3 separate regions of the Homo sapiens genome follow, and all the other regions are linked to region 3. The links come from fine-mapping of genetic effects on gene expression. A gene starts in region 3. Each other region holds a variant in brackets. All regions are shown on one strand. Distances are from middle to middle.

Region 1 (8,181 bases), 80 kb before region 3:
GGTGGCTCATGCCGGTAATCCCAGCACTTCAGGAGGCCGAAGCGGGTGGATCACCTGAGGTCAGGAGTTCAAGACCAGCCTAGCCAACATGGTAAACCCCGTGTCTACTAAAAATACAAAAATTAGCTGGGCTTGGTGGCGTGTACCTGTAATCCTAGTACTCAGGAGGCTGAGGCAGAAGAATCGCTTGAACCCGGGAGGCGGAGGTTGCAGTGAGCCAAGATCGCGCCATTGCACTCCAGCCTGGGCGACAAGAGCAAAACTCTGTCTCAAAAAAAAAAAAAAAAAGAGAGAGAGAGAGAGACTGCTCCCATTTATTAAGTGCCCACTATGCAATGCTAGGTGCTGCATATCCTTCTGACACATTGCAAGGAAGCAGCACTAACCCCATTTTAAAGAAAGCAAAGTAAGCTCAATGTGCTTAAGTAACTGTTTCAAGGTTGCCCCAGTCACCCAAAGCTTCAGACTTGGCCCTCCTTGCGGCTCTCTCTCTCAGGAGGCAGGGTCCTGAAGTGCCCGGCCTTGCAGTAATCAGGGCAAGAGAGATGATGGTGCCCGTGGAGATGGAGAGAAGGGGACAGAGTTAAGTGGCCAGGGAGAGAATCCACTGGGTGAGGAGAGGGAAAGGGTGACCAAGCATTGTACGGTGAACATCCAGCCCAATGCCTGGGCTACTGTGCCAACACTTTCTGTGAAAATAAAAAAGTGGTCATAGATTTAGGGGTGAGATCTACCGTTTTGTAACTTACTTTGAAATACCTCCCAAAAAATAAGATGGATTGACAGATGGAGAGATATTTGATAAAGCAACTATTGCAAAATGCTAATTGTGGAATCTAAATGTTCCCTGTACAATGGTTTCAACATCTCTACATGTTGAAACTTTTCATTAAAGAAAAGTTGGGAGAGGGAGGCAATGCTTATAAAAAAAATTAAGCCCAGAAATGCCTTAAGAAACCTTCCTCAAAAAGTGTGCCAGCATCACACTGCTGCTGAGAGAGCAAATTGGTATAATTTTTCAGTGGTATCCAAGGCCCCACAAAAGGTACACATCCTTTGACCCAGCAACTTCCCGCTAGGAATTTTATCCTGAAAAACATAACTGGATAAGTTTGCAAGGGGTACAGAATGTACAAGTGAAAAAAATTAAGACTTAAGGGAGGGGACAAAAAGTCCCTGTGAAAACACCCAGGCTAAAGGACGTAGGTTAAACTCTAAGTATGGGGTAGAGTAGTCCTCTCCTAAGAGAACAGACACAGTGTAGGAATCAGGGGAGAGGGTTTCCTTTGGGTAAAAAACAAGCCTCTCTGGCCAAGAAAGGAAAGAGGCAGTGTGATTGTATGAAGTTTTCCTTTGAATATCTTGGAGAGACGCTCTTCTGCCACCAGCTGTTCCATCGCCGCCTTCCAGGTAAAATGCCTGCCAGGCCTTCCTGGAGTGCACTATCCTTTTTCCATAGATTTTCTCAAACACATCCATGGGTTCAACTCTCATCTCTTTACAGAAATGACTCCAGGCCATCTCAGACTTACTTATTTCTCCTTTTTTTTCTTTTTCTTTTTTTTTTTGAGACAGTCTCGCTCTGTCGTCCAGGCGAGAGGGCAGTGACGCGCTCTCAGCTCACTGCAGCCTCCACTCCCCAGGTTCAAGCGATTCTCGTGCCTCAGCCTCCCAGGTAGCTAGGATTACAGGCGCCCGCCATCACACCCAGCTAATTTTTGTATTTTCAATAGAGATGGGGTTTCATCATATTGGCCAGGCTGGTCTCGAACTCCTGGCCTCATGTGATCCACCTGCGTTGGCCTCCTGAAGTGCTGGGATTACAGGCGTGAGCCACCATGCCTGGCCCATACTTCTTTTTCTAAGCTCCAGGCCTGAATATTCAACAGCTCCTTCACCATCTACTTTTGTCTCATGGACACCCAATCTCAACATGCAGAACTCAGGATCTTTACCCCTCGTGCCTGTTGTTCCTCCTTCATTCCCTCCCTAAGTAAATGGCACCAGCCTCTTCCTACGTACACCTGGCACCAACCTGGGGGAGGTGCCCCAACATCACCCCTTCCCTCTCCTCACCCAATGGATTCTCTCTCTGGCCACTCAACTCTGACCCCTCCTCTCCATCTCCATGGGCACCATCGTCTCTCGTTCCCTGATTACTGCAAGATGCTCTTAATTCTTATCTCCACCAAAATGTCTTCTATAGAGCAGCCAAACTGATCTGAAAAACCCAAGTCTGATCCTGCTTTTCTCTGCTTTAAAAGACTTATCACTCCATCTCTGCTGTCCAGATGAAGCCCCAAAACCTCAACGTGACTTACAAGGCCCTCCAAGATCTGGCCCTGCTTCCTGCCACGGCCCCGTCTCTCATTCCTCGGACACTTGCTCCCGTGTTTTGGCCATTCTGGTGAAGCACAGAAGTGCTCACTGTCTCCCTATAGCCATCATTCTCCTTTCTTCAAGTGCCAGCTGGACACACAGCCACCCAGAACGAAAGCTATGTTTCCCAATCCCGCTAGCAGCTGGCAGCTTCCTGTATGAAGGGAAGGAGGTCAGTTCTTCTGCCATTTCCTTCTGACTGCTGGTTGGAATGTGGATGTAACAGGCAGCACTAGAGCAAGCCTTTGGGGCCATGAGACAGAAGCAGCATGCTGAGGAGGGCACAGCAACTGAGAAGCCACCTGGGTACTTGATGAACATGGAGCCACGGGATCAGCTCTGAACTGCTTTTTTTTTTTTAATAGGAAACAAATGTAAACTCTTTTTTTTATATAAGCCAATGTTATTTTGGGTTTTCTGACATTTGTAGCTTAACCTACCCTAATTAATGTACTTGCCTTCTTTTATTTCATCAGAAGTGCCAACCTTTGTCCCAAAGGAGCCTCTGAATAGCAAGGTTTCCTCCAGGAACACATTCCCCACCGTTTCTGTTCCTTCCCACCACCATGGCCTGACAAACTCCTGCTCATTCTACTGATCTCTCAAGGAAGCTCCCCAAACCTCCCTCACTGTGTTAGATCTGTATTTTTTCATACTCTCATGGTACTCTCCGTTTCTCTCCACAGCACTTCCTGTGATGAGATGTACATAATTATTTGTGCAATTATTGGTTTCACATCTACATGCTCCCAAAGACTGCAAACACCACGAAAGAACAGAACCCAACCACTCTGTCTGCTGCTGCCTGCCTCACCCCAGCACAGTATCTGGCACAAAACAGACACTCAATTATCGCTGAGAAATGGGGAAGAACCATGGGGTGATGCATGCTGCATGGGCTTTGTGCCAATAAGGGACTGTCTGTCTCAGACTTCCTGCTTTCACTCTTTACCTGAGAGCCAAAGCCTCACTCTTATACTAAAAGGGGCAGAAAAAAAAAACACCAACCATGAAATGAAGGAGGTGGCATTTTTGGTTGCTAAGAATCAAGTCCCAGTTGGGGCTTCCCCACCTTCAACTGTCACAGAAAGCAGGAAACACAAATCTGTTTTTGTCTTCTCTTCCCGGACACTCTTCTGGCCAATCCCCTCTCTCCAGGTGGCAGGACAATCCTCTATCTCTCCGTTGGCACACCACAGCCCCAGCCTCATCCTGCCACTTCTGGGTCAGGCCCTAGCCTTCCTGTCCCTTTCCCTCTGCCACAGCCAGCTCATGAACCTGTCTCCCATCCTTCCCCCTTGGCCTCATAGTGGTTCCTTCCGCAATCTGTCTGCACAATGCCAGGGCCAGCTCCATTCAGGAAGGCTTCCACCTGGGAACAGCATGATCCACCCCACAGGCTCTAGCACAAGTGCCTGAGTTAACACAGTGGCTCAGATTCTCACTTGACCACCATGGGGCCCGAGTATAGCACCTCCCAGCCACGAAGGCTTGGAAACCAGGAAAACATGCTCCGAAACCCCATCTGACTCATCTGCTCACTTTTGTGGTGACCTGTGAGCTCTGGAGCTGCTACTGTAGGCCCTCACCGGCAGCCTCAAAAGGCTGGGAGTGTCTCCTGTGGCCACGGCTGAAAACCCACATCCCGTCTTCCCTACGCAATCTCTTCCCTGCAGTCAAGAGCCAAGTGAGTGACATGCTCTGATGATGCTCCTTATCAGCAGCACAGCAAAAGCTGTGTTACCACGTAAGGATCAACCAGGGCGTGGACGATGACGAAAGAACACACCTGAAAGCAACAATGCTCATAAGCACACACGCGTGCTCACTTCACACCATACTCTATCATGAAAAGGCATGTTGCAGATACTTCATCCAAAGCCTCACAGAAACTCTATAACCCACTATAAGTAAACTGTTGTGAGCCACACAGAGGTAGAATGTGTATTTCAGAAAAGTGCTTCCTGGCAGTAATGTCCATATGGATTCACCTCCAGAGACAATCCTCACTGGTGCCTCCCAATCTGGATATTTCAGTTCATTCTGGGCATCTGGTATGTGACGAGTACAAGATTCCTTAAGGGTAGCTCCCAAAGAAATCTAACTTTTCCTTGGACTCAAAGTGTGAGCTGAGTTTAATCCTCCCCTGCTGGCTTACTCGAGAAATCTGATCTCAAAATCTTGCCGGGTGTCGTGTCTTGTTTGAACTGAAGTCAGGCTCTGCTCTTCTGTTTGGTACACTCTCCTCGGCCACCAGCACAGAGGCACAGCCCCCTTCACCCACAAGATGCTACTTCTACTGACAAAAATATTTACTGACCTGAAGACAGCACAAATTCAAATAAACTCTGGTGAGAAACTCCCCAGGTGGCCCAGACCACGGCCACACTGC[C/T]AAGGCCACTGCCAAACCAGCCTCCTTCACAAAGCAGGCCCCCACCGCTCGGGTGCTCAGCAGCTGGGCCACCTGAGGCCACACTGTGAAGCACATGGTGGCTCCCTGGGCCGCTGCCTTGTGTGAGAAGCTGGGGGTTAACTCTTCATATGTATGGTTACCACACCACTAGGGGCCACACATCTTGTACATGTTTCTGATTCTCACAATACCACTGTGAAGACAGTGTTAATGCCCTCATTTTAGAGTGATGGGAAACTGGAGCTCATGAGAGGCTAAGAAACACATCAGCAGGAAGTGGCAATAGGGGATTTGAACCTGGGTCTCTGAGACTCCAGCTCCAGACTTTTCCCCTGGCAGAGCACCACCTGCCTCTGCCTTGTACTTTCCAGTTCCTCGCCTCAGGACTGGGTGAACAGATGCATAGGCCAAATGTAAACATTCATTCATATCTACTAAAATAAAATAAACTGCTCGGTTCACACGTATCACCTTTGGTTGACTTAAAAGACTTCATGAACTTAATGAAACTCGTTTCTCATTTTACCAAATGCCCTCCTCCATCCTTTTCACTAATGCTTGCTTATCTGGACACATGGGAAACGTTCCTAAGATCTCGCTATAACATCAATGTCTAAATTCCCAGTTCCACTTAAAGAAAAAAATCAAATGGACTCACCCTTTCATTATGTCCTTTAGCTGCAACACAGCATTCCAATCTCAGTTACAGAACCCCCACATCCCTGCTGGCGGTGGGCCAGCTCCAAAACTCGACAGAACGCAGACAAAGCATTTGGGAACAGATGCATTTGCTGCACAGACTTTAAATTTAATCAGTGCCAAAAGAAATTACTAATATCACACCTCATGCAACATGGACAAAAATACTGGCGGGGGGGGTAATGTTTTGGAGAAGACATAGTAAGTAATTTTCACATTTAATAAATGTGATCCTCAAGCATTCTAAATACCAATGCATACCAAGTTGACACAAACATCTGGTACCTATTCCACATAATTTTCAGCACTCTGATTCCCCATATCACCCAGGGTTCTAATGAGGAGCGTGTGTTCAGCTGTAATAAAAGTGGTAAAGATGCAGAGGGAATTAAGGGGTAACATTATAGGCTGGGACCAAGACATCGCAGTGGGGAGATTTTATTCTAATGACACCATTGGCTAATAAGGTTTTTGTTATTGTCCCACAGGGAATTCTGAAATGCTGTCAGCTGCAAAGAGGGACAAACTCCCACAGATTGTGGGACTGGGTACTACAGGATCTATTCTGCCCTTGGGCTGAAAATCCTTTCTACCCCCATGGGATGCAAGAATCTGTAAGAAAGGGCACCCAGGATGATTTCTCAGCCAATAGCACTGCCTCACTTCAATCGAGCTTCATGAGAAGGAATGTTACCAACACAGGATATGACGCAAAAACAAAGCTCCAAGAAAAAAACACCTGGAATGCCCTGAGCTCACAAACACGCCTGACGTGTACATAACATATGCTCATGTTTGTACCATCTCAAATTACAATTCATTGGAACTACAGCGCCTTGGGGATGGAGCGGTGGAATGTACCACCATTAAACTCCAAAGAGGGCGCTTCTACCACAGCTCCTACCTGGGTTTTTCAACAATAAAACCTGGCTTCAGGCTGAAGCTTATCCCTAGTAGGAAAAAGGTAGACAAGTCCTAAAACTTGTAATTTGGATTTCTCAGGGGGAAAAAAACTAGATTTTTCTACAGCACAACTCTTAGGCATATCTTATCATGGTTTCTTTCACCCTCCAAGCAAAATCTACATCCAAACCTTCCTCCTAACAAACTAACCCTCTTCCAAGAAGTCAACCACCAACTTTTTGGGCCAAAAGCCAGTGCATATTTGTGTATTGTTGTGTTGAAATCATGGAGCAACCATGTTGGAGAATTTCCTGTATTCAATTGTGTTTTCAAATGTTCAAAAGGAAACAAAGGGCACAGGTTCTTTAGGAATCCAAATTCTCAAAGTGTTGGGAAGTGCCAAGCTATAAAAGGCACATACTCTTCCATCTAAACAAGATACCACTATACAATCTGGACGTGCCAACAGAGGGGGATTTCTGCAGCCCTCTGAGGAAGTGGTGCTGTTATGTTTCATGGTTTTTATGACCTGAAGTGAAGCAGTGGCATGTCTCAGAAGTCACCACTGGACATAGCAAGAGGTGTCCTTGTATTACAGAAGCACCGGGAAATAGTGAACCAGGAGATACAGGAGCTGGGTTTTAAGCATTCCATGATCTCTTATTCTATGACAGGCTTGACTTATAGATCAAATGATGCACTATATGTGAAAACGCTTTACAAACTTCAAATACTATTAGAGACATAAAGTCCCTTGAGGGGAAGAGAAATAAATGAATGAGAACATTTTCTCCAATCAAAAACTGTTTTCTCTAAAAACTTTTAGAATGATTAATAAAATATCTAAGATAAGATGTTCTTATACTACTCCCTAGCATTACTCCCCAGAAATTATTTCTATGAATTGCACTGGAAAGACTTAAAATAAAACTACAGCTGGGCATGTACTCCCTGTAATCATGCCTGTAATCCCAGCACTATGGGAGGCCAAAGCAGGAGTGCTTGAGGCCAGGACTTCAAGACCAGCCTGGGCAAAATAACCAGACCCCCATCTCTTTAAAAAAATTTTTTTAATTAAATTAAACTATGCACAGTATTAGAGTAAAAATTCCTGTTCTCTGAGCACATTCTGGAAGTACAACTCCCAAAGGCGAGAACAGGCCATGTTTCTGCCTCCAGGGAATTCCATCAATCCATAAAGACAATCAGTTGGCATCATCTTGGCCAACAGTTCTTCTGATTTACTTTGTTTGGTATTTTGTTTTGTTTTGTTTTTGGAGACACAGTCTCACTCTGTCGCCCAGGCTGGAGCACAGTGGCGCAATCTCAACTCACTGCAAATTCCGCCTCCTGGGTTCGAGTGATTCTCCTCCCTCAGCCTCCCAAGTAGCTGGAATTACAGGCATGCACCACCACACCCGGCTAATTTTTGTATTTTTAGTAGAGATGGGGTTTCACCATGTTGGCCAGGCTGGTCTCAAACCCTTGGCCTCAGGTGATCCACCTGCCTCTGCCTCAGCCTCCCAGAGTACTGGAAGTGAGTCACCACACCGAGCACTGATTTACTTTTGACCAATAATATGGTGCACCTGTCCCTATTCTTCTCACAAGAAGGAAGCTTAAACAGAAGGAGACACTGGCTACAGCATTCATTTTGGAGGGGATAAGAATTTATGGGATGTTACTGCCTAATTGGCTCAGAACAGAGACCAAGAACAAATCTGAAGGTTTGAAGGATGGGAGAAAATAAGATCTTTTTTCTCCTACCCTATGAATTTGGCAGATAC
Region 2 (8,181 bases), 200 kb before region 3:
ATGCCATTATAGTTCCAGGAGTGGTATATACAAAATTGTCAAATTGGGGGGACACAGGATTCTATGTATGGATCTTAATCAAGCTTAATTACATTGTTCAAATCTTCCATATCCAAATATTTTTGACTTGTCAACTTCTGAGAGTGATATGTTAAAATATCCTACTGTGATGAATTTGTCAGTTCCTCTTTTTCCTCTTTATAATTTTTATAATTCTGTCACTTTTTTTTTTTTTTTTGCTTTAAAGCATTGGAGTGTGAGAACATAATATATAAGGATATTAACTGCAGCAGAATATCTTGGCAAAAAACTAAAATGTCATTACTAGTGAATTGGCTGAATTCATTGTAAAAAATATTATGCAGCCACCAAAAAACATGAAATTTGTTCCGTATCTAATAATCTACAGGAGGTCGATGTTAAGTGAAAAAGGCAAGTTGCAGAGTATGTATATTGTGATCCCATTTTTAGTAAACGAAACAAAAACTTCTATATTCATGAACACGTTTCAATATGTTTGAGTTTGAAAAAAGGCTGTTAACATCAGCTCCTCTAGGTAAGTGACTGGAGGGAGTAGGAAGGGTAGCGTTAACAAATATCTTTGTATTTCACTTCCTATGAGAACCATATTTTTATTTGGGCAATTTAAGTTAAGCCTAATAAGAAAATGATGATGATCAGCAGTCATCTTAGGAGCCCTGAGAAAGATATGCCATATGAAAAAAGCAAGTCACAGGCTGGGCGTGGTGGCTCACGCCTGTAATCCCAGCACTTTGGGAGGCCGAGATGGGTGGATCACTTGAAGTTAGGAGTTCGAGACCAGCCTGGCCAACATGGTGAAACCTTTTCTCTACTAAAAATATAAAAATTTGCCTTGGGTTTAGTAGAAACCCCATCTCTACTGAAAATATAAAAATTAGCTTTGGGTGACACAATGAGACCCTGTCTCAAAAAAAAAAAAAAAAAAAAGAAAAAAGAAAAAAGCAAGTCACAACTGTTATAATCCAATTTTTTTTTTTTTTTTTTTTTGAGACAGGGCCTTCCTCTGTCACCCAGGCTGGAGTGCGGTGACATGATCTCAACTCACTGGAATCTCCACCTCCTGGGTTCAAAGATTCTCGTGTCTCAGCCTTCTGAGTAGCTGGGATACAGACGCATGCCACCCCGCCCCGCTAATTTTTGTATTTTTAGTAGAGACAGGGTTTCACTATGTTGGCCAGGCTGGTCTCGAACTCCTTACCCCAAGTGATCCACCCACCTTGGCCTCCCAAAGTACTGGGATTACAGGCATGAGCCACTGCACCGGGCCATAATCCAATCTTATTTAATGACATGGACATGTTGATATGAATTAAGGAAACATCTGGGAACACATACACTAAATCGGTATTCTTATATTCAAGTTGGAGGATTATGGAGGCCTTTTCATTGCTACATGTCTGTATTCTTTGCATTCATTTTATATATATATATTGTGTGAACAAGAAAGATAATTTTTTCTTACAAAAAGCCTATGGACTCTCACCAAAAACAACAGCCGAGACATAGCTGCAATAAAATCCTACATACAATTCCAGCCACTTCACAGACTCTCTGAAGCCCATTTATTAATCACCCAGGTTTTGACTCCAGTAGACACAAGGAGAGTTTAATGGCAAAAAAAATTCATTGACCTGCCAATTACTCCCACATATCCTAAGAGGAGCTGGTTGCAGGGGGCACCGTAGCTGTAAAATGGAGCTTAACACTGTTCCGGCTCTGTGGGTACCCACCTGTGTAACATGTGAGGGATGGGCTGCTGGCCTTGATGCCAAATCATCTGAGTCACTAAAAATCTCAAAAGGGGAGTGTGGCCTGTAAATGCATATTCAATGCTGTAATGTAATATTTGATACTGAACGAGAACTTTTTTCATTACAAATTTGTCTGGGGGTGAGGATGCCAAATAGAACTGAGCTCCGGAGAGGTGAGAGAAGTAGCTGGGAAAGCAGGCAGATTAGCCTCCTCGGAACCATGCTTAGGAATCTGAACTGTATCCTGAAGGCAAATGGGGCAATTACCTAAAGGCCTCAAAATGGAGTCTTTTTAGGATTACTTTGGCTGCATGGTGGAGAAAGAATTGAAGGGAGCAAAATGGAAAGTCGGCATACCAGTTAGGAGGCTGCTGCAGTGACTCAAGAGACAATGGCTCTTGAGCAGTGTGTAACAACAGTCAGAGTAGGAATAAGTCAGTGGTTTGAAGAAAGAGACATTTTAGAGGTAGAATAACACTCGGACTTATTGATTTGGGAAGAGGGGAGCCAAAGAGGCTGTAGTTAGATTCCCAGGTTTCTGGCTTGGACAACTGGAAGACGGTGGTACCATATGGAGATACGGAATGCTGGAAGCAGCAATGGGGTATTTGAAGGGGCTGAAAATAGTAGACCTTAAATGTATATTATGTTTCTTTCTTTGACTCTGGGAGATTGACAGAAGGCCCAGGAATGGTTTCCAGGGTGAGACACCCACTTCCAAGTCTCCTGCCATGTTTTTCTGAGAAGAGCGACAGCTCCTGCTGCACTCTTCTTCTAGTCCATCCGCCCTTCCCTCTGCTCTGGACCTCTTAGCCTTTCTCCTCCCACTTCCTCATCAACACGGAGCAGACGATCCATTCAGGAGAAAGTCACAGTGAAAAAAGTTACATGAGCCTTAGGGTAGAATTTAATGATAACAAGACACATATTAATAACTGATATATATCTTTTTATTATGCACAGATAAAAGATTTAAAACTGTGGTTATCAAAACTATACATCTAAGCATCTTCACAAAATAGCTGACACACTGAACAGAGAAAAGAATACAACAGGGGTGTTCAAACTGGCCACAGGGATTTTAAGGGTACTCGTTTTACCCTCATAGATGATGAAAACCAGCAACAAAATCAGGCTCATTCAGGAAAAACCAGAAGAGAGAAGTATTGTATTTGGAAACTGATAATAGTCCTTTTTAGAAAAACATCTGTCAGTTTCATGAACAACCCCCAGATAAAACAAACATGAAAAAAATCACATAGGACTCACCCAACAAAATGTGCTCTGTTAACACAACCAGCAGTACAATCATCATTCAAACCATGAGGTAGTTACAGTACAAAAAGACTGGCACGCGTGTGAGCACCCCACACACACTCACAATCATGCCCACTAAGAACACAAGCAGGAAATGGATTTACAATCTTATTACAAGGCAAAGAAAAAAACCATTTTTTTTGTTTAGAAAATGCTATAGAAACAGTTTAGACAGAAGAAATCTCTGGCTTTTTAAAATACAGAGTAACAGCTGGTAAACACCACATGGTGAAAAGCTATAGCGTATTATACAGACAATCTGCCTTGGAGTTTGGGGCATTTTAACAACAGCTTCAGCATCAAACAAACAACAAAATGGCCTCTGCAAATTAAGGGTGTAGCCTGCAGAAATAACAAAAGACTGCAGATACAAGAGTTCAGCTGAAATACAACAATACTTTTAAAGAAACTTGTAGTACACGTTATAAAAGTAGAGCTTGTACTTTGTATTAAAACTGTAAAGTGTGAAGCAATTAGAAATACTGTAATGAGAAGCTAGGGAGAAAATACCTTATTTTTTTCATGTTCATTTTTTAGAAACATTTCAGAAATACTTAACGACATTCACTCTCCAATATGAGATTAGGTTTTATCGACACAGATTTCTTGATCTGAATAATAATTCTGACAATGAGACCCAAACAAATAAAAGGTGATTTTTTTCCTCTCTCTCTCTTTTAAAAAGATCTTTTGGTTTGCATCTATAAATTTGTAAATTAATTTTAAATTATTTATAAAATCATTGGCAATGTAGCATCTCTCTTAAAAATATATATTTAAATATATTACAGAAGGTTTTAACCCTGTCCTTCTAAGACATCAATCTTTTAATATCTCCTAATAGCTAATTTTCTTTTTAACACGATGGAAAAGATTTTTTAAAAAAGCAAAGGACTGATCGAAAGAATTCACAGTAGCTGAAATTAAACATTTCATATGGAGTAACTTAAATTTATCTAAAACACTTAAATATATCTTTATACACAAATTTTGTAGTAAAATATAGCTATAAGTGACTTAAAGACTCTAGTCTTCTTTGAAGACATCTTTAAACTTTTTTATACATAGAATATGCTGAAACAATACATTCCACCGAAGGTTAGGCAAAGCGCAATATTTTCAAACACAGGTAGCGTAATCTAGGTCCTCCACTCTGATACCCTTCTGTTAAAAAAAAATTAAAGGAAAAAAATTCTCTAAACTCATGTCTTCTTCGTTTGTATATGGAAATCTAGAAATTTTTCAGTAGATCAATGTAGATAGCCTGGAAATCTCAGCCCTAAAGTAATGTTTTAGTTAAAATGTTCCTTATTGAAAAAAAAAAATGTTCCTTATTGAATGTGTATATCTATCAGGTAAGTCATATTATTACTCAACGATTTGGTAAAAATGATTGTCAATTTCCACATACTTGTTTCCCATGTAGACACTGCCCTAAGGTTTTAAGCTTCATCAGGATTACCTACTGAGGTTCCATTCACAGACAACCAGGCATAACTTCCTTATTTTAAGGGCAGTGGGATTTGCTTATGAATATTTTGGGGGTAGAATCTATCTTGTTCTACTTATGGAATTCTAAGTTGTTTGGGGGAAATTCTGGAAAAAGAATAATTTGCAATGAAGCTATCTTCAGCAGTAAAATAATTTAGCATGATAATTCCCCCCTGGCATTCTTTTTTTTTTTTTTTTTTTT[T/TTA]AACAAGGAGGTATCACTGAGCTTATTTTAGCTGCAAAGTGGCATCATATTATTCCATTTAATGAAATTCACCTCAAGCCCTTTTTGACATATTAAATATATGGGATATATTTAAGGCAAGAGAAGTAAGGCAATCCAAATGAGTGCCCTTTTCCAATCTCAGCACTGTCTTGGTGGAATTGGTGACACTATTCAGATAACCAACTGGAGACCGACAGGATTTGCCATGCATTTGCATCTTGCTACAGTTTGGTTTTTATGAAAGGGCCTATTTTTTTTTAAGTTGACATATTTTGAGTGGAAACACTCACCCTACCAAATATACTTAAGTTGCAACTCTAAAAGCATAAGGACATTTTCAAATTTTCTCTTCTTCAACTGAGAAAATGAATGTGCCAGGTGACATATTATATACTTGTACTTGCATACACATAGAAATATATCACTGTGCAAATTCGTCCTTGACTTTATAACTGAATTTCACCTCAAATTATACATTAATTTGCAGAACAAAATATTAGGAATGGGCACAAATCTGTGGTTCCTGATTTTGGTCATTTTCAATTTCTGTAGGCCTGTAAGAAATACAAAATTTGCATTAAGACATTTTGCAGTGGTGTATGCAAGTATGGGAAGAAACAGGAAGCTGATAAGGTCATCAGCATTGGTTTTGGCCCAGGGCACAAGAAAGGAATGTTGCCTTAACACTTGTCAGGGTGCAGTCCCTGAGGGCAGCACCCATCAAGGGACACATCAGACCCCACAGGTTGTGGCAGCAAGGTCAGAAGTGTGCATCCAGACAAAGGTGCAAATTAGACAGGAGGATCGCTTAGAAAGCCTCAAAGCATTTCTTGTTTTACATCTTGGTTCAGATATAAAGAATCTTTGGCCGCATCTCCTCACTGGTTCTACTATCTGGCTATTAACCCTTTACCAACTCCTTGAGTCTGGGTAAAACTCAGGGCCCCAAATTATGGATGTTCTCACCTGGACAAAGCAGCATTTTAAAAACTGGCATGTGTTTCACATTGAAAACCCCCAAGCCTGTGAGGGGCTGGTGGAGAAGACCACCATTTTAGCTTTCTCACATGAATTCTAGTGTGGTACAGAAGCCCAGGGTCATGTTTATACTAGCCCTGGGTGTGGGGTGAATACAACGGGTGATCTTTATACTGAAATTCACTCTGTCTTTACAAGGGAACCAAAATCCAGCCCTCTGAGTCTGGACACGAGGCTCAGCCATTGGTCCTGCCCTTGGCAGTAGCTGAGCTGAGCTGGGCTGGGCTGGGTTGGGCCGGGTTGGGCTGGGTTGGGCTAGGCCGTGCTGCTGCTGGAGCAAGGCGTGCTCTGCGTGCTGCCGATGCTGTGGGCAGCACTGCTGTTTTCCGAGGCTGGCGGGGAGGTGGGGACTTGCTGCCTTCCTGCTGTCTCCCCTGCAGTTAATAAAGAAAAGGCAGAGTCAGAGAAAGACGCATATTATGTATGTGCATTCCTGAAAAGATCATTTATTCCGCATTTGCCATTTTAACTGATATTTTTCTCAACCAGGGCAGAAGCAACTAGACTAGGTCCTAGATGGCTGGAATACCTTCTAAAATAAGGTTTTGCTATTTGTTGTTTTATTTTTAAAGCATCATGAATGGGAAAAAGAAGACAGCTGACTGACAGGCAGCTCTAGTGGCTAAGACCCCTGAGAGTTGATGACAAAGTCCCTGGATTTCAGGGTCCACAACCTTTGATGAAATCACCACCACTTGGTCTGTGTGAGCTGGCAACTGACCAGCACCTGTATTCAGGAAACACTGTCCATCTTCTCTCATAAAGACACTGTAGGATTTGGAGGGTGTGACCTTTCAATTGTAGTTAAGAGAACCCTGGAAGTTTGGGAGCCTTGTTCTGAATGCACTTGTTAAAAACAGGAGTGAAATATAGACTTTGTCCTAGCTACAGTAGAGAGAGCCTTGTGTGCCAAACAGATAAATTACCTGAGAAACCGGGGTGGGGGATAGCTGCTATTGGAAAAACCTTTTGGGGAAGGGGTTTAGCTGTTTGCACATGGGGACTGCAGTTGCCAGCGAATGGCCTCTCTTCCCCACTGAGGTTCCCTGTGGGGTGCAGTGTGAGTATCTCCTAACACTTTAAGCATCCCACTTTTCATTACACACCCCACTGCATTTTAGCTAAAGCCATTCATCGTGCCAAATGTGCAGTGCTTTGGAGAGGAAGGAAACCTCAAGTCACACACATGGTTTGCATTTAACAGTGCAAAAGGCCCTAGAGTTAGTCTTCTCTTCGGCAAAACCGGCCTCAGTGCAACCCTCAAAAAATGGCTCTAGGTAGGGAAAAGCGATCAGGGCTCTCCAATAAAAAACACTGCATTTACTTTGAAAAGTCAGAGCATAAACTTCATAAACTTCTTGTAAGCAGCATCCCCTCCTTCAATGTGGGAAACCCCAGAGGGCCAGGCCTGTTTATGAATGAGCCTCCTCTTTCCTGTCATGCTGAAATACACATCTATCAGCCGGAGATAAGCAACCCTTCCAGCTGCTTCATTAAAACAAAACACTCGAGGAAAGGCCCTGCCCTCCAGTGCAGGAACTTGGCCCCATTACTTCCATTCTCTTTCTGGGGCCCCTCAAAAGCCTCTGTGAAAAAAGCAGTTCTGCAAAATGTAGAACTGGCTCATGTCCCTGGGTCTGGTTACAGCTTTTCCTGTCACCCCTTTCATGAACCACACAGCTATACACACTTTTGCATCAACCTCAAAGTATTTATGTGCTTGTTGTAAGTTTGGCCCTTGTTGTACTTCCTCTAATTATCTTTTCTTCTGGGATTGGCGGGATGGATAGGGGACTGGGGTCAATATTCCTGAGAAGCGGAGAAGCACTGCCTTTTTTTTTTTTTTTTTTTTTTTGTGAGACGGAGTCTCGCTCTGTCCCCTAGGATGGACTGCAGTGGCATGATCTTGGCTCACTGCAACCTCCACCCCCCGGGTTCAAGCAATTCTCCTGTCTCAGCCTCCCGAGTACCTGGGACTACAGGCATGTGCCACCATGCCTGGCTAATTTTTTGTATTTTTAGTAGAGACACGATTTCACTGTGTTAGCCAGGATGGTATCGATCTCCTGACCTCGTGATCGGCCCACCTTGGCCTTCCATAGTGCTGGGATTACAGGCGTGAGCCACCACGCCCGGCTGAAACACTGCTTTTGACTTTTTTGGAAACCTATGTTTTGGACCCTCCCCAGCACTGCCCTCTACTCTTCATGTGTGTGTATAATTAAGGCTGGGGAAATTAGCCTCCATGGCAATAACTTTCTGCCAAAAATTCACTTTCCCCAGAGTAGGAGCTTTATTTCTAGAAGGGAATCAAATCTC
Region 3 (8,181 bases):
GAGTTCCCTGGGCTCTTAGGCTCAGATTCTGCCCTCAGAAAAACAAGCACTCACCTGACTTTTACAAGTCACAACCAAGTTTGCATGCAAGAGAGAAAAATTAATTCTTTTGAGTCTTAAAAACAATGGAACAACACTTTCCTTCAAGCCAACGAAAGGCTTTCTGTAAGAAAGCCCTAAGCAACCTGAAGGCATTTTGGCCCCCAGTCATCAGAGCACTGAATAAGGACAATTAATTTGCCAAGCTCCAAGACCAGAAACCATAGCCTAGTAGGGAGTAGGAGGTTATAAGTGTTTGTTGAATTACTCGAGTAAACTAGAGCAAAGCATAGAAGACTAAATGAGATCCTAAATAAATGCCACTCTGTAGTATAAGCGCAATGCTAAGATTTAAAAAGAAGGGACTCAACTAATTTTGAAAGTTATTTTAAAATAGGATCCATGGGACCCTAACGTAGTAAATGAAATAAAGGTAAATCAATACTACATAATATGGGGCCGGGCACAGTCGCTCACGCCTATAATCCCAGCACTTTGGGAGGCCGAGGCGGGTGGATCATGAGGTCAGGAGATCAAGACCATCGGGGCTAACACAGTGAAGCCCCGTCTCTACGAAAAATATAAAAAATTAGTCGGGCGTGGTGGCATGCACCTGTGGTCCCCGCTACTCGGGAGGCTGAGGCAGGAGAATCTCTTGAACCTGGGAGGCGGAGGTTGCAGTGAGCCAAGATCACTCCACTGCACTCCAGCCTGGACGACAGAGCGAAACTTTGTCTCAAAAATAAATAAATAAATAAATAATAAAAAAATACTACATAATACGCAAGAAACAAGAAAGGAAACTGGCCTACAAAACTACAGACAAAAATTGAAAACCTTTTTTTTTTTTTTTTTTGAGACAGAACCTCGCTGTCTGCCAGGCTGGCGTGCAGTGGCACGATCTCAGCTCACTGAAACCTCCACCTCCTGGGCTCAAGGGATCCTCCCACCTCAGCCTCTGGAGTAGCTGTGATTACAGGTGTGCACCACCACGCTCAGCAAATTGTTGTATTTTCTGTAGAGATCAGGTTTCGCCATGTTGGCCAGGCTGGTCTCGAACTCCTGACCTCAAGTGATCCACCTGCCTCGGCCTCCCAACATGCTGGGATTACAGGCGTGAGCCACCACACCCAGCCAAAAACTTTTTTTAAAAGTCAAGTTTGGCCAGGCACCGTGGCTCACGCCTGTAATCCCAGCACTTTGGGAGGCTGAGGTAGGCGGATCACAAGGTCAGGAGATCGAGACCTTCCTGGCTAACACGGTGAAACCCCGTCTCTACTAAAAATACAAAAAAATTAGCCGGGCATGGTGGCGAGTGCCTGTAGTTACAGCTGCTGGGGAGGCTGAGGCAGGAGAATGGCGTGAACCTGGGAGGTGGAGCTTGCAGTGAGCTGAGATTGCACCACTGCACTCCCGCCCGGGCGACAGAGCGAGAGACTCCATCTCAAAAAATAAATAAATAAATAGATAAATGTCAAGTGTGATTTTTTCAAGCATATTCTTATTGTTTATGTTTACAAGTATGAGTATTCATAGACACATCACACTTATACTAGTATCAAATATGATACATCTGAACTACTACTATACTTGAATATTAACGTAAGCCTCTGAGGAATTCACAGTAATAGAACTGCTGTTATTTAGGATTACTGATCCCCTATTGTCTTGCACTTAGAAGATGTTAATGAAAGATGATGACAGGATTGTGAACACACCAACCTCCCTGAGAACAAATTCATTATATTCAGTTTTCTACAAAACACAAATGAGGATCATTACAAAAGGATTCACAACAAATTCCTCTGGATTTCCATTTCTCCCAGGTAAGTTGAAATATTATTCAAACCACACAAAATTAGTTTACATACAAACTTCACTTTTTAAAGAGATGGGGGTCTCACTATGTTACCCAGGCTGGTCTCGAACTCCTTGGCCAAGTGATCCTCCTACCTCAGCCTCCCAAAGTGTTGGAATTACAGGTGTGAGCCACTGTGCCTGGCCTACACACCACTTAAGGAAACAAATTGAAAAAAAACTATATGTGTGTTTATCTATCTGTCCAGCCACCATGGAGTTCTTGACATATATTCAACATACAGGCCCTGTCCTCAAGGTCATTCTTAATCAGTTCAAATTAAATCTAGTCCTCCATTATAAACTCCAAAAGCAACTTAGTTATTTTGCTAGATATTTTGCCCTCCCCTTTCAAACTATATGTTTAATACTCTAAAAACGGGTTTATGCGCCTTATAGATATCAACAGTGTGTTATGCTCCCCCTATTGACTAATATTCAAAATAACAATGAACTCCCCACGGGTTGCCTTTGAAGTGCTGGGATTCAAAACTATGTTGGTGATTTTTATATTTAAAAACATGAGCTGAATCAACAGTTGTTAGGCAAAGCTGCCGTGTAACGGTCAGATTCCATCAAAACAGGAAAAATTAAAGTTGACAAATGTCAAACTGAAGGGCCAAAAAAAAAAAACGCTCAAGCCTTGAAACACTAAACAATGCAGAAATAAAGCCAAAAGCAAAGAACAGCAAGAAATAGAGCAACATCCTTTAACTGACACAATGGCATGAAATCAATTTCATGTTAATAGCCCTTAAGGGGGTAAGAATTATTTCCCTGCCTCCTGTGCCAACCCCAAGCTGTTTCCTAAGGAAGCCAAGTAATGGTGATCAACAATGTCTGGAGAATTAATAAAAGAAATTAAGAATAAAGATCCATGTTGGCCAGGCGTGGTGGCTCACACCTGTAATCCCAGCACTTTGGGAGGCCGAGGCAGGTGGATCACGAGGTCAAGAAATCGAGACCATCCTGGCCAACATGGTGAAACGCCGTCTCTACTAAAAATACAAAAGTTAGCTGGGCGTGGTAGCGCGCGCCTGTAGTCCCAGCTACTCTGGAGGCTGAGTCAGGAGAAACTCTTGAACCCGGGAGGTGGAGGTTGCAGTGAGCCGAGATCGCACCACTGCACTGCAGCCTGGGGACAGAGCGAGACTCTGTCACCAAAAAAAAAAAAAAATTTCCATGTTAATTAATACAAGTCAGAGTTCTATTTATAATTATTTGGGGCCAGTTTCAGAGGAACTTTAATTGGGCACCCTCATAAGTATGTAAAATCGCCTAAATTCATCACAGATACCTTATGTGTGTTTCAAGAGATATGCGTTCAGCTCAAATAGAAAGCTGAAAGATGGGAGAAGATGCATGGACTATGCACACAAATCTATGTACACACAAATCGGCCTGCACTTGCCGCTCTCCGCTGAGGAAGGAAGGTAGCTTTGGAGTCAGAACTAACAGAAAGTTATGTATGATCTTGGACAAGTAACTTAACCTCTAGTGTCTTATCTGTAAAATAGGGTTATTAATAGTGCTTTTCCCATAGAGATGCTGTGAGGATTAAGTGCACACAGTATGGGCTTAGAAAACGTTAGCTGTTATTATTATCCAAAAGAAACAACTGAGTTCACACTGAAGTAACTGTTTGCACTCTGCATTCAGGAAGAAGAAACGGTCTTGACGTGTGTTTTTACTACCTGTGGAGACTTCTCCCAAACCGCTCACTTCTTCGGAAGGACATAAAACTCAGAATACGCCTGGTTCCCCAGCACAGCCTGTCACTCCTACTATCCTCTGCCCTCGCCGCTCCTATCCTGCCACCGCAGGGCTAGCGGCAAGCAGCGCTAACCTCCGTGCGGTGCTTACTCGGTGCCAAGCACTGTTGTAGCACCTCACACACATTAAATCATTAGATGCTCACAGCAACTTTACGGGGCAAGTACTACTATCCTCACTTCACAGCTAGGGAAATGGAACGGTTTTCTTCTTCCAGCTTTTCGTGAGGACACCAAATCCACTAAGTTCTACTTTGCCAAGGTAATTCATGCTTGACACGTCGGCTCCTGACACTATGCGATTCTGCAAAGCGGGGCAAATGCCCTAATAAGATCAAGTCTGCAAGCAGATTCTTCTAGCGACAGTCCAAGATTTCCAAGTTTGTCCTAACCAAATGAATACAAGAAGAGAGCCTTCAAAATAAACCGGGGCGGGGGGGGGCCGAGCTGCAGCTTGCGGCTCAGCCCGCAAGGCACCCTGAGGGCGCGGCCAGCGGGGAACGCAAACCGCGTCCGTGCACGAGTCCGGGAGCCACAGCCTGGGCCACGGCAATTGACTGCGAACCCACAACAAACCATTCCCACCGAAGCTGTCACGCGCCCGGAGGGAAGTGGCCGCCGCGCCCCGCAGGGGTCAGAAGGACCCGCGGAGAGGAAGAGTGAGGGCGGGCGTGGAGAATTCCTCCCCAGCACTGCGCATCGCCGGGGGCACTGCCTGCCCCGTGCGGCCGCTGCCCACGCACCGCTGGCCACCGGTGCCTGCTCCCCGGAGGGTAAACACCGCCCCACCAGCGCCTCCCTCCCAAGGCCGGAGGTCCTGGCGGCTGGAGCGACCCTGGCCGGTAAGTAGGCACTGGCAGCCCGCGCCGCGCCGACGGGCACCCGCGCAGCCTGCAGAGCCCACAGCCCGGGCGGGCTGCAGCGCCGCGGGGCTGGGCCGGCACGTACCTCGGAGGCGGTGTGTCCAGCGGAGATCCACCCGCAGCAAGTTGGAGGAAAGCGGCGGCAAGTTTCCCCGCCCAGCGCTCGGCGGCGGCGAGCTCCGGCAGCTGCTGCGCCGCGGCAAAACTACGCCATCCGGACCCGCTGGGGACTCTCACCTCCTGCAGGGAGCTCCGGGAATCGCGCAGGGAAAGTGGCCGGGGCGCGAGAGCCGCCGACTGCCCTCCTTCACTCGCTGGGAAGAGGAAAGTGCCGCTCGGCGTCCCCGAAACCCTCGATTACCCCCATCAGGCCGACCCGGCGCACTCGCCCTCCCTCGCACACACGCGGGCGGGGACGGGCAGGACGCCACAGCAATCAGCGCGCGGGGGGAAGGGCGCTCCTCCGCCGGCCCCACCGGGGGCTCTCGGCCGCCCAGAAACTCCTCCTCCCGCCTCCCGCCTCCCGCCTCCTCTCTCCTCCCCCTTTGCCTCCGCGGCTGATGGATGAGCCCCGAATGCTGCTCGAGCCTGTGCTTCCCTTCGGGACGAGGAGGCCGAGAGAGAAGGGGCTAGGGGCGCGGCCGGGCTCAGCGTGCCCGGGTTGGGGCGGCCCCTGTCCTGGGGGAAGCGCGAGGGAGACGTGGGCACGAGCTGCGGGGACTCGCTCCCTCAAACGAGGTCCTTTGAACTTTCCAGGGCTCCCTGGAAGAGTTGGATTTTCATTTGGTTCCTTGGTCTTTATATAAAAGTTCTGAAACCTCAGATAATCTGATCACAGCCTCTTGCCCTCTCCCCAGCAGAGCTCCCCCATGCACACATTCATTCTGTCCCTGTGCTTTTTCCCAACCTCCGGTCCCGCTTGTTGTCACGCTCTGATGGTGGGCGCCGGCGGAGTCTTGCCTCTTCCCCTCCAGCAGCTGAGACTGCATTACCCAGCCGTTCCCCCTGCTAGCTAAATAAATTAATACAAATAATGGAGCTAGGTCAGCATTACCGGCGTTACCCGGAGGTGGGCGCGATATGAACGACAGTCTCGGCGGGGCAACGTCCTAAGTACCTGTGCCTGTGCGACGTCCTAAGTACCTGTGCCTGTGAAGTACACGCTGCAGAAGTTGAACTGCTGGCACCAGAACACCACTCTGATACTCTTGCTTACACCCAGTTTTTCTTATTAAAAAGTATACTTAAGTAACAGGACATTGTTTTACAAACAGGCAGGTGAAATGACCGTGGACTGACAGGTTTCAAAGACCAGACTTCCAGTCCTGACTACTGTGCGACCTTCCACAAATGGCTAACGGCTAATACCCGTCAAGGCTCAGTTCAAATGAAGGGCTTGGCCTAGAAGGCTTCTTCCAGTTCTAAAGGGCTATGGACCTATGCCTTTTTTTTTTTTTTTTTTTTTTTTTTTGAGATGGAGTCTCGCCCTGTCGCCCAGGCTGGAGTGCAGTGGCACAATCTCAATCTCAGCTCGCTACAACCTCCGCTTCTCAGGCTCAAGCGATTCTCCCACCTCAGCCTCCTGAGTAGCTGGGATTACTGACAAATGCCACCACGCCCAGCTAACTTTTTGTATTTTTTGTAGAGGGGGTTGGCAGGGCGGGGGTCTCACTTAGTTGCCCAGGCTGGTCTCAAACTCCTGAGCTCAAGAGATTCGCCTGCCTTGGCCTCCCAAAGTGCTGGGATTAGAGGCGTTAGCCGCTGCACCTGGCTCAATCCTAGGCTTTTAATATGTTGGAGAGTAGAATGAGGAGGCTTCTTATGACATGTTATTTGGAAAGTTATTGAGAGAACAGGAAATATTTCTCGTCCTCTTCCTCTTGTACCTATAGGCAGAGAATCCACCCAATTGCAGAATTGGAGATTCATTCACAAAGGTCAAATGTCATCAGTCACCTGAATTACTGCAAAAATCTCCTCACTGAACCATTTTTTTCCTTACCAATATTCATTGAGCACTGACTATGGGAGAGCCCTGAGTCAGGCATTGGGAATACAAGTAGGCATAATATTCTGAAGGAATAAACAGTCCAGATGGAGCTAGCCTCTGCTTTTATAAAGTCTAAGTTTAAGGCCTTAAGATTTCTCCTAGACTCAAATTAAACAGTATTTGATATGGTTTGGCTGTGTCCCCACCCAAATCTCATCTCGAATTGTAAGTCCCACAATCCCCATGTGTCCTAGGAGGAACCCAATGGGAGGTAATTGAATCTTGGGGATGAGTTTTTCCTGTGCTGTTCTCATGATAGTGAATAAGTCTCACGAGATCTGATGGCTTTAAAAACAGGAGTCTCCGTGTACCAGCTCTCTCTGCCTGCTGCCATCCACGTGATATGTGACTTGCTCCTCCTTACCTTCTGCCATGATTGTGAGGTCTCCCCAGCCATGTGGAACTGTAAGTCCAATAAACCTTTCCTTTGTAAATTGCCCAGTCTCGGGTATGTCTTTATCAGCAGCATGAAAACAGACTAATACAGTATTTATGCCTTGTTAACAAGTTTTAGTTTCAAGTACAGATGTGAACACTTGAACTAGGTGTGAATATTTAATCCCACATTTAAATGCATCGGCCAGGTGAGGTGGCTCATGCCTATAATCTCAGCAATTTGGGAAGCCGAGGTGGGTGGATCACTTGAGGTCAGGAGTTCTAGACCAGCCTGACCAACATGGTGAAACCCCATCTCAACTAAAATACAAAAATTAGCCAGGCATGGTGGCGGGCACCTGTAATCCCAGCTACTTGGGAGGCTGAGGCAAGAGAATCGTTTGAACCCAGGAGGCAGAGGTTGCAGTGAGCTGAGATGGTGCCATTGCACTCTAGCCTGGACAAGAGCAACACTCTGTCTCAAAAAAATAAAATTAAATTAAATGTATCAATCATGTTAAGGCCTTCTAAATAAAATGGCCTGGTAGATAATTTAGGAGTGTCTTGTCTTTAAAGAGTGATGAAGTGACTGGTCCCCGTAGAGCCAGATTCACAACAGTAACCATCAACATCTGAGCCAGCGTGGGTACTGAATTCTTTTTTGTTTGTTTGTTTTTGTTTTGAGACAGAGTCTCGCTCTGCTGCCGAGGCTGGAGTGCAGTGGCGCAATCTCAGCTCACTGCAACCTCTGCCTCCTGGGCTCAAGCAATTCTCCTGCCTCAGCCTCCTGAGTAGCTGGGATTGACAAGCACGCACCACCATGCCTGGCTAATTTTTGTATTTTTAGTAGAGACGGGGTTTCATACCATGTTGGCCAGGCTGCTCTCGAACTCCTGACCTCAAGTGATCCACCCGCCTTGGCCTCCCAAACTGCTGAGATTACAGGCATGAGCCACTGCGCCTGGCCATGGGTACTAAATTCTATACATATAAACACATTTACTTCTCACAGCCCTCTAAGAATATGTATAAATGAGGCCGATATACATGCCTTTATACAAACTGAGATCTTGTCCACGATTCAATCTCACATCCACCGACCTCAAAACCTGTCCACGATTCAATCTCACATCCACCGACCTCAAAACCTAAGTCCTTAACCACCAGGTTCTTCTACCTGTCATCAGAAGCTTTATAGACTGGCAAAATAAAAGGGCTCTTTTTT

Which allele goes with the higher level. Positions count from the first base shown, and alleles are read on the strand shown. Sizes are in standard deviations (SD) of each study's normalised expression. Not every link is listed here.
With allele C in place of T in region 1, the expression in pancreas of the gene that starts at base 4,890 in region 3 is higher (moderate effect, 0.53 SD a copy in GTEx).

What was found. PIP is the estimated chance that this variant, and not a neighbour inherited with it, causes the effect.
Region 1: its variant is fine-mapped to the expression of TGFBR3 in pancreas (GTEx, PIP above 0.99).
Region 2: its variant is fine-mapped to the expression of TGFBR3 in whole blood (INTERVAL, PIP above 0.99).

What each region holds. Positions count from the first base shown.
Region 1 is chr1:91,800,813-91,808,993 of GRCh38, forward strand. All of the region lies in intron 2 of TGFBR3 (transforming growth factor beta receptor 3), which reads right to left. Among named protein-coding and RNA genes, the nearest start is that of TGFBR3, 81 kb to the right of the region's middle. RefSeq lists an enhancer at 2,954-3,223. The variant C/T (reference allele first, on the strand shown) is at 4,772.
Region 2 is chr1:91,677,622-91,685,802 of GRCh38, forward strand. TGFBR3 (transforming growth factor beta receptor 3) reads right to left here. Exons shown (of 17, transcript NM_003243.5): 17 at 2,722-6,236. The coding sequence ends at 6,118. Among named protein-coding and RNA genes, the nearest start is that of CDC7, 180 kb to the left of the region's middle. RefSeq lists enhancers at 6,135-6,638, 7,118-7,197. The variant T/TTA (reference allele first, on the strand shown) is at 4,804.
Region 3 is chr1:91,881,262-91,889,442 of GRCh38, forward strand. It overlaps TGFBR3 (transforming growth factor beta receptor 3), which reads right to left and starts at 4,890. Exons shown (of 17, transcript NM_003243.5): 1 at 4,617-4,890. RefSeq lists enhancers at 3,698-4,461, 4,462-5,224 and silencers at 4,367-4,576, 4,587-4,666, 5,017-5,156.